2 linked regions of the Homo sapiens genome follow. The protein of the gene in region 1 interacts with the protein of each later gene in a pairwise test. Each region holds a gene or a part of one and is shown in the gene's direction. Other genes may lie near its edges. The genes, in order: ITFG1 and SERBP1.

Region 1 (3,502 bases):
CAAAGAGGTAGAACCTCTTTAACCACTTTTTTACTTAAGCAGGCTGGCTCCTTCTACCATTTTCTCAATGCAGGCTTTCCCCAGTGTCTGCCCCTGGCCCTCTTCTTTCAACACTTTCCCTGCCAATTTCATCTAAAATCATGGCTTCAGATATCCCCAGCTCTCATCTCTAAAGGTCCTTCCCCATTTCCAACTGTCACCATGATAGCTCAACCTAGATGACTTACAGCACCTCAAAACCAGCATTCTAAAGCTTCATCTCTCTTACTTAACCTACAAGATTTCATCACTTGCCTATGGACTCTGCCTCTGTAAGAAGTTCTACAGCTGACTCCACTTCTACATTCCTACTGCACTGCCCCTTCTTACATCCTACTTGGTCTCTTTCTTTCCGTTCTCTCCCCTTTCCATTCTCTCCCCTTTCCATTCCATTTAGCACACTGCTGCCAGTGATTCATTCTGTTTAGCCTTCATCATGTCACTCCCCTGCTGAAAAAGCTCTAGTGAATATCCATTGCCTTTTATGTATAAAATCCTTGGCCTGGCCTGCATATGACTTCCATGTGACTCCACAGTCGTATTTTTTACCAGTTGCTTTCACATATCCGTGCTCCTTCCAGCCTTCTCATGATTGATCATGTTGTAACCCCAGCTTGGAGTGAATACCACTCTCCCCATTTCCATACTTTCAAATGCTTTCCCTGTCTTTTCAAAGCTTTCCCTTTCCTCACCCGGATCTAGAAGTAGTCTCTTAGACTTGGTAACATTTTTCACTTTTTATCTTGAACTACAGTTATACAATATGTTTTGCATTTGTCTTTTTGGAGAACAAGATACAAAACGGAGGTTTTTTTAATATTAAAATAGCAAACACAGTATTGGTATTGGGAGTATTAGAAGCAAAGGGCCAATGAATATCTGCTAAATTGACAAGTTAATGAAAAAATAATTAGTACATTAGTACTCTGTCACCCAGGCTGGAGTGCAGTGGTGCAATCTTGACTCACCGCAACTTCCGCTCCTGGGTTCAAGCGATTCTCCTGCCTTAGCCTCCCAAGAAGCTGTGATTACAGGTGCCCACCACCACACTCAGCTAATTTTTGTATTTTTTTGGTAGAGACGGGGTTTCACCATGTTGGCCAGGCTGGTCTCGAATTCCTCACCTCAAGTTATCTGCCCTCCTTGGCCTCCCAAAATGCTGGGATTACAGGCATGAGCCACCACCACACCCAGCCATTAGATTTGTTTATTAACATCATTGTTAAAAATGACAGAAAAATGCAATCATTGATTCATCCTTATAGAATCTAATACTTATTCCTATTTTCAAGTAGATAATAAATGATAAGAAGCTAAGTATTTAAGGACCCTAAGTATTTAATGTGCCTTAAGTATTCAAGTATTTATTGTTTTTTAATCAATTAGATCATTAATTATAAAATAGCTACTATAAACTACAAAAATACTAGGACTGTTGAATTAGGAAATCATATCTATTATCTGCTAATTGCTGGAGACTTTTAAAAATGAATCACTGTGTATTTCAGAAATGAGTCTTTTCATAACATCTTTCTACCATTTATAAACGAGTCTAAAATTCTTTTTCAGAAAGCAGATGATAGAGAAAAACGACAAGAAGCCCACCGGTTTCATTTTGATGCTATGTGACTTGCCTTTAATATTACATAATGGAATGGCTGTTCACTTGATTAGTTGAAACACAAATTCTGGCTTGAAAAAATAGGGGAGATTAAATATTATTTATAAATGATGTATCCCATGGTAATTATTGGAAAGTATTCAAATAAATATGGTTTGAATATGTCACAAGGTCTTTTTTTTTAAAGCACTTTGTATATAAAAATTTGGGTTCTCTATTCTGTAGTGCTGTACATTTTTGTTCCTTTGTGGAATGTGTTGCATGTACTCCAGTGTTTGTGTATTTATAATCTTATTTGCATCATGATGATGGAAAAAGTTGTGTAAATAAAAATAATTAAATGAGCAGGAATTTTTGTGTCCACTTGACTTGGTCTTGCTTCTTATTCTAATGATGCAAATTATACTTTTGTGAATATATCACGGAGTCATTAGGCATTCAGCTTCATCACAGCAGGTCAGGGGTCTCACTGATGGCATACAATATAGTGATCGGGTACTCTGACTTGGTAGCACAGTAAGACAGACTTGCCTTAAACTCCTAATTCAACCACTTACAAAGTCATTGTTTGAACTTGGCTCTTGTTTAACCTCTGTAAACCTCAGTTTTCTTGTTTATTCAGTGGGGCTAATACTTGAGTTACTGTAAACATTAAATGGGATGATGTATGTGAAGTGCTTAGCTTGGTGCCTAGCACAGAGTAAGTGGTCAATATGTGGTAGTTGTCATTATTAATATTTTAGATGATCTTATTAGACTTATACATCTAATTATAGAAATACATAGACTTGATAGAATTTTATTTTCAGGCATGAAGAAATATTCTTTGGAAAAGCTAAATTTTTGGTGATTGACATAAAGATTTACTTGCTCATATTAACTAAAAATTATAGTACTCTCCAAGAATTAATGTGCCCTAAAAATTTTCCTCCAAAAACTTATCCTTATCATGTGATAATGAAGAACATTTGATTTCTTGAAAGGAAACTGCTGTAGGCAGCATCTGGGAATGCAAATCTTCAATCACATTTCTATTCTCAAACACTTGGAGAAGTCTATAATTTACATTCAGACTTCAATGCAAATTTTGTATTGTGAACTTCACATTTCCAAAAAGTTACTTTAAAAAGACTTTAAGACTGAAAAAAAAAAGTTTATCAATGCTAATAATTTTCTAGTATGCAAATGGACATGTGATGCCTATAAAACACAAAAATTTCTCTGAAAACAATTTTGTTCTTATTTTTTTCTTTATAGTTCACTGAGATTGGCATGTGTTTTTACTTTGTATCTAAGCATGTTAACATGTCTTCTTAATAAATATTCCTTATTGAAACAAAGTATTTCAGTGAGTTTTTAAATAATTATTTTAGAGCATGAAGAGACCTTAGAGCTTATGAAAGCATTTATCTGGACTGGGAGACCAGGGTAAGGTGACTTGCCCACTGCCTCTCTGTGGGTCACGGGCAAGATAGGATTCTCCTGACTGTAATACTCAGTTAAATTCACTAGTTATCAGCCCACAGCACTGTCCCAGGCACTACGTGACACTTTCTCAAAGATAATTGGGATCATTATTGATATAGCCTGAGTCTTCAAACTCATGTGAATCAGAGTTTACAAGACAAATAAAATGTTAATGACAATTAAAACTACAATCAGTGACATTAATACTGCTTCTGTATTTCCAAATGCAACTTTAATATCATTTATTAAGGGACAGCAGGTAAAAAATGTATCACAACATTGAGAATCACTAACAAAAACCTTTGTTTTGATTTTGAATATTGCAGTGGAAAGAGAGCAAGGCTTTGAAGTCAGACCAGTCTGGATTCAGGGCCC
Region 2 (3,829 bases), on another chromosome or scaffold:
TGCTGCCAAAGTGAGCACTCCCTCATACACTTTATTTTGAGACAAGGTCTTGCTCTGTCATGTAGGCTGGAATGCAGTAGCATGGTCACAGCTTACTGCAGCCTCAACCTCCCCGTGCTCAAGCGATCCTTCTAGCTCAGCCTCCTGAGTAGCTGGAACTACACACCTGTGCCAACTCCTGGACTCAAGCAGCCCTTCTGCCTATGCCTCCCAGAGTGCTGGGATTACAAGTGTCAGCCACCACACCTGGCCTACTTTTTATTGTTATATGGTTGGTTGGTTTTATTTTTTTCTGAATATTTTCGATCTGTGGTTTGCAATAAATTGAAAGCATTGGTTTGAAATAGCAAACATTTAAAAATCACACAATTAGTATATATAATTGATTCTAATTTGCTGGTGTTTTGTGAATTTGTTTTTATGTTTCTAGCCTCCTTTAAAATTTGTATTAGAACATTCTATTGCCTTACAGTGTGTTGGTTTGGTACAAAGGAGTGACATTTAATACTAGTATGAGTTGATGTAAGGGGTGAAAACATGGATAAAAACACAAAAATTTATTTGTACTTTAAAGGCTAGTTATTAACAGCTGTAATATTTTAAGTTGAGTCTAATGGAATTGTAATAGTACAAGTTCTAATGAAAGAACAAAATGTTCTTTATCCCTTTAGAAAAGAAGATTCCTTAGATGTATTTAGGAAAAGAGGAAAAGAAAGCTGTACTTTCAAGTCCTATAAGTACAGTTTTCAACTAGAAGATTAAAACCCATCCCAAGCGTACAAGAAGACATCAGGCATGAAGCAGTATAGAATTGTCTGGCTTTTTGCTTTTTTCCCCCAGACTGGGTCATGTATCTTAAACGCAAATAGAAAAGAGGATCTGGATTTCACAAACATGACTTCATTTTTAAGAAGTTTCTAGCTGGGCATGGTGGCTCATGCCTGTAGTCCCAGCACTTTGGAAGGCCAAGGCCAGCGGATCGCTTGAGCCTAGGAGTTTGAGACCAGCCTGAGCAACACTGTGAAAACCTGTCTATAAAAAATACAAAAAAATTAGCCAGGTGTCATGGCATGTGCCTATAGACCCAGCTACTTGGGAGGCTGAGGTGGGAGGATCGCTTGAGCCTGGGAGGTGGAGGTTGCAATGAACCCAGATCGTGCCACTGCACTCCAGCCTGGGTGACAGAGTGAGACCCTGTCTCAAAAAAAAAAAAAAAAAAAGGTTCCTGTGACACATTTAAGGTGTGGTTTTATTTGTGCATAGCTTTACAAGATTCCCCTCTTTATGTAAAGTGTGTAGTGTTTCACTTGAATTTGTAGCTCTCCAATTTGTGTAGAAAAACGTAGTGGTTGTGTATTAACAGAAAATGCTTCTGAGAAGTTTATATCTAGTAAGGTCTTTACCCTAGTTGTAGTTGGAAGAGTGTAGAACAGAGTTTTTCTTTCTGAGTGTTCTTTTTAACTTCAGTGTTAGTGCTAGTAGTAACCTTATATGTCATCTCTCCAGAGGTCTTCATCAAGGATTCACATGGCAGTCCTGATCTGAAGGGCATATTTAAAATGTACTTGTCCAGATTTCACTGCTAAAGATTATGATTCAGTAGGTCTAGGATGGGCTTCAGCCGTTTGGGTTGATTGTGATAGCATACATGTCTTTAGTTGAGGACTGCTGGTATTACCTGCAATTTTGAGATAGAGAAAAGTGCAGGAAAATCTTCCTCCAGGATCACTAAAGCTGAGCCCTAGCTTGTTACCTGTGGAGGCATTGAGACATTTGTTCACAGAAAGTACAGTTTGGATTTTTGGTTTTTTTTAGAAGAAAGCTCATTATTTAGAAATTTTGCAATGTTACTTTTCTACTAATAACACAATCATCTTCACTTATATTTTTAGGCTCATGCTGAAGATTCGGTTATGGACCATCATTTCCGGAAGCCAGCAAATGATATAACGTCTCAGCTGGAGATCAATTTTGGAGACCTTGGCCGCCCAGGACGTGGCGGCAGGGGAGGACGAGGTGGACGTGGGCGTGGTGGGCGCCCAAACCGTGGCAGCAGGACCGACAAGGTAATTTAAGACTTTCTTTTCCTTTTACATAATTTAAGGACCTCTTATAAGTCACTGGCTGGGTCAGACTTATGTCACTTTTGGGAACATAAGTAGAAGTAGTAGCAGTGTCTTTAAGAAACCGCATGTTAGGTTATATTTATGTTTAAAGCACTTAAATGCCTTTTTGTGTAGTGCTGTTAGTAGTGTTAAGTTACCACCCTTTTGAGTTCTTTCTAGGTGCCGGTCATGGTGCTGGGCTAGGCATTTTATGTACTTAATGTCATTTAATTCTTGTTACTGTGATGACATTCTCATTTTCCAGATGAGAAAATTCTGGTATAGTGAATCAGGTTAACTCTTGGCCTTTGCTAAGGCTTACCTGAAAACCAGTCTGTTCACTTTGATAATTCCTAACTGCTTTTTAGGTCTCCACTTAATAACCATTGTGTTCCTTGTATAATTCCTCTTACGACACTTAGGATTGTTGACACTTTTTTCTTTTACTAGACTCTTCTGTGAGAGCTGGGATTCATTTTTGGCTTACTTTCTATAATCTCTCCAATGCCTTGAACAGTATGTGGCACAAAACAAGTTCTTAGAGAAATATTTTGGTGAATTCCCAAGTAATTGATAGATTTGAACTCAGATCTGATGCTTGGAAACAACCATAATGTCCTCCTAAATTCTCAACACCTTACACACAAATTTGGGGACCCACCTACTTGATTGAGTCTGTTTTTGATGATTACAGGGGTAACTTACCATTGCCAGTGTAATGATACTTTGTTCCTCCCTCTAAGACCAACCTTTTTTTTTTAAGGTGGTGGTTGTGTTGATGGGCTTTTCCCATACTTTCTTTTTTAGTTCTGTTATTTATACTTTAGGCTATAAAGAGCAGTTTGGATTCCTTTTTTCAGACTTTCAACCTTGATGATTATTGCTACTTAGATATTAGTTCCTTAGCATGCTTTCACATTGGTGCCATTCTTATTTAGCAAGTGGAAAAAGTATAAGAATACTGAACAATGCGAATTCACATACATAATTGCTTATGAATCTACTTGTATGGTTTATTGGAAAAAGTAAAACAACTGGGCTGGGCGCACTGCCTCACGCCTGTAATCCCAGTACTTTGGGAGGTCTGGGTGAACAGATCACCTGAGGTTGGGAATTTGAGACCAGCCTGGCCAACGTTGTGAAACCCTGTCTCATTAGCCAGGTGTGGTGGCACATCCCTGTAACCTAGCTACTTGGGAGGCTGAGGCACAAGAATCACCTGAACCCAGGAGGTGGAGGTTGCAGTGAACTGAGATTATGTTACTGCACTCCATCCTGAGCAACAGAGTAAGACTGTCTCCAAAAAAAAAGAGAAAAAGAAAACAACCCATATTATTACTCTGGAATGAAAATAGGCCTTGGTAGAAATTTAGGACAGGGCTCATTGCAAATACTTGTAGTTTTTTTGTGATCCATAATTTTGTCTTGATACATTTTACCTAGAATTTTAACAGTAGGATTTTTTTTTTTTTTTTTTTGAGATGGAGTCTCACTCTGTTTCCCAGGCTGGAGTGCAGTGGCACAGTCTCGGCTCACTGCAACCCTTGCCTCCCAGGTTCAAGCGATTCTCCTGCCTCAGCCTCTTGAGTAGTGGGATCACAGGTGCCTGCCACCACACCCAGCTAATTGTTTATATTTTTAGTACAGACAGGATTTCACCATGTTGGCCAGGCTGGTCTCAAACTCCTGACCTCAGGTGATCCACCCACCTTGGCCTCCCAAAG

The links.
Region 2: the proteins of ITFG1 (region 1) and SERBP1 interact in a two-hybrid assay, tested with the Homo sapiens proteins (one large-scale study listed by BioGRID and IntAct).

The regions. Positions count from the first base shown.
Region 1 is NC_000016.10:47,153,885-47,157,386, reverse strand, and holds the end of ITFG1 (T-cell immunomodulatory protein isoform 1 precursor), read left to right. Parts: intron 1-1,608; coding exon 1,609-1,668; 3' UTR 1,669-2,996; downstream 2,997-3,502. UniProt on the Homo sapiens protein: Modulator of T-cell function. Has a protective effect in graft versus host disease model.
Region 2 is NC_000001.11:67,413,403-67,417,231, reverse strand, and holds part of SERBP1 (SERPINE1 mRNA-binding protein 1), read left to right. Parts: intron 1-1,892; coding exon 1,893-2,066; intron 2,067-3,829. UniProt on the Homo sapiens protein: Ribosome-binding protein that promotes ribosome hibernation, a process during which ribosomes are stabilized in an inactive state and preserved from proteasomal degradation.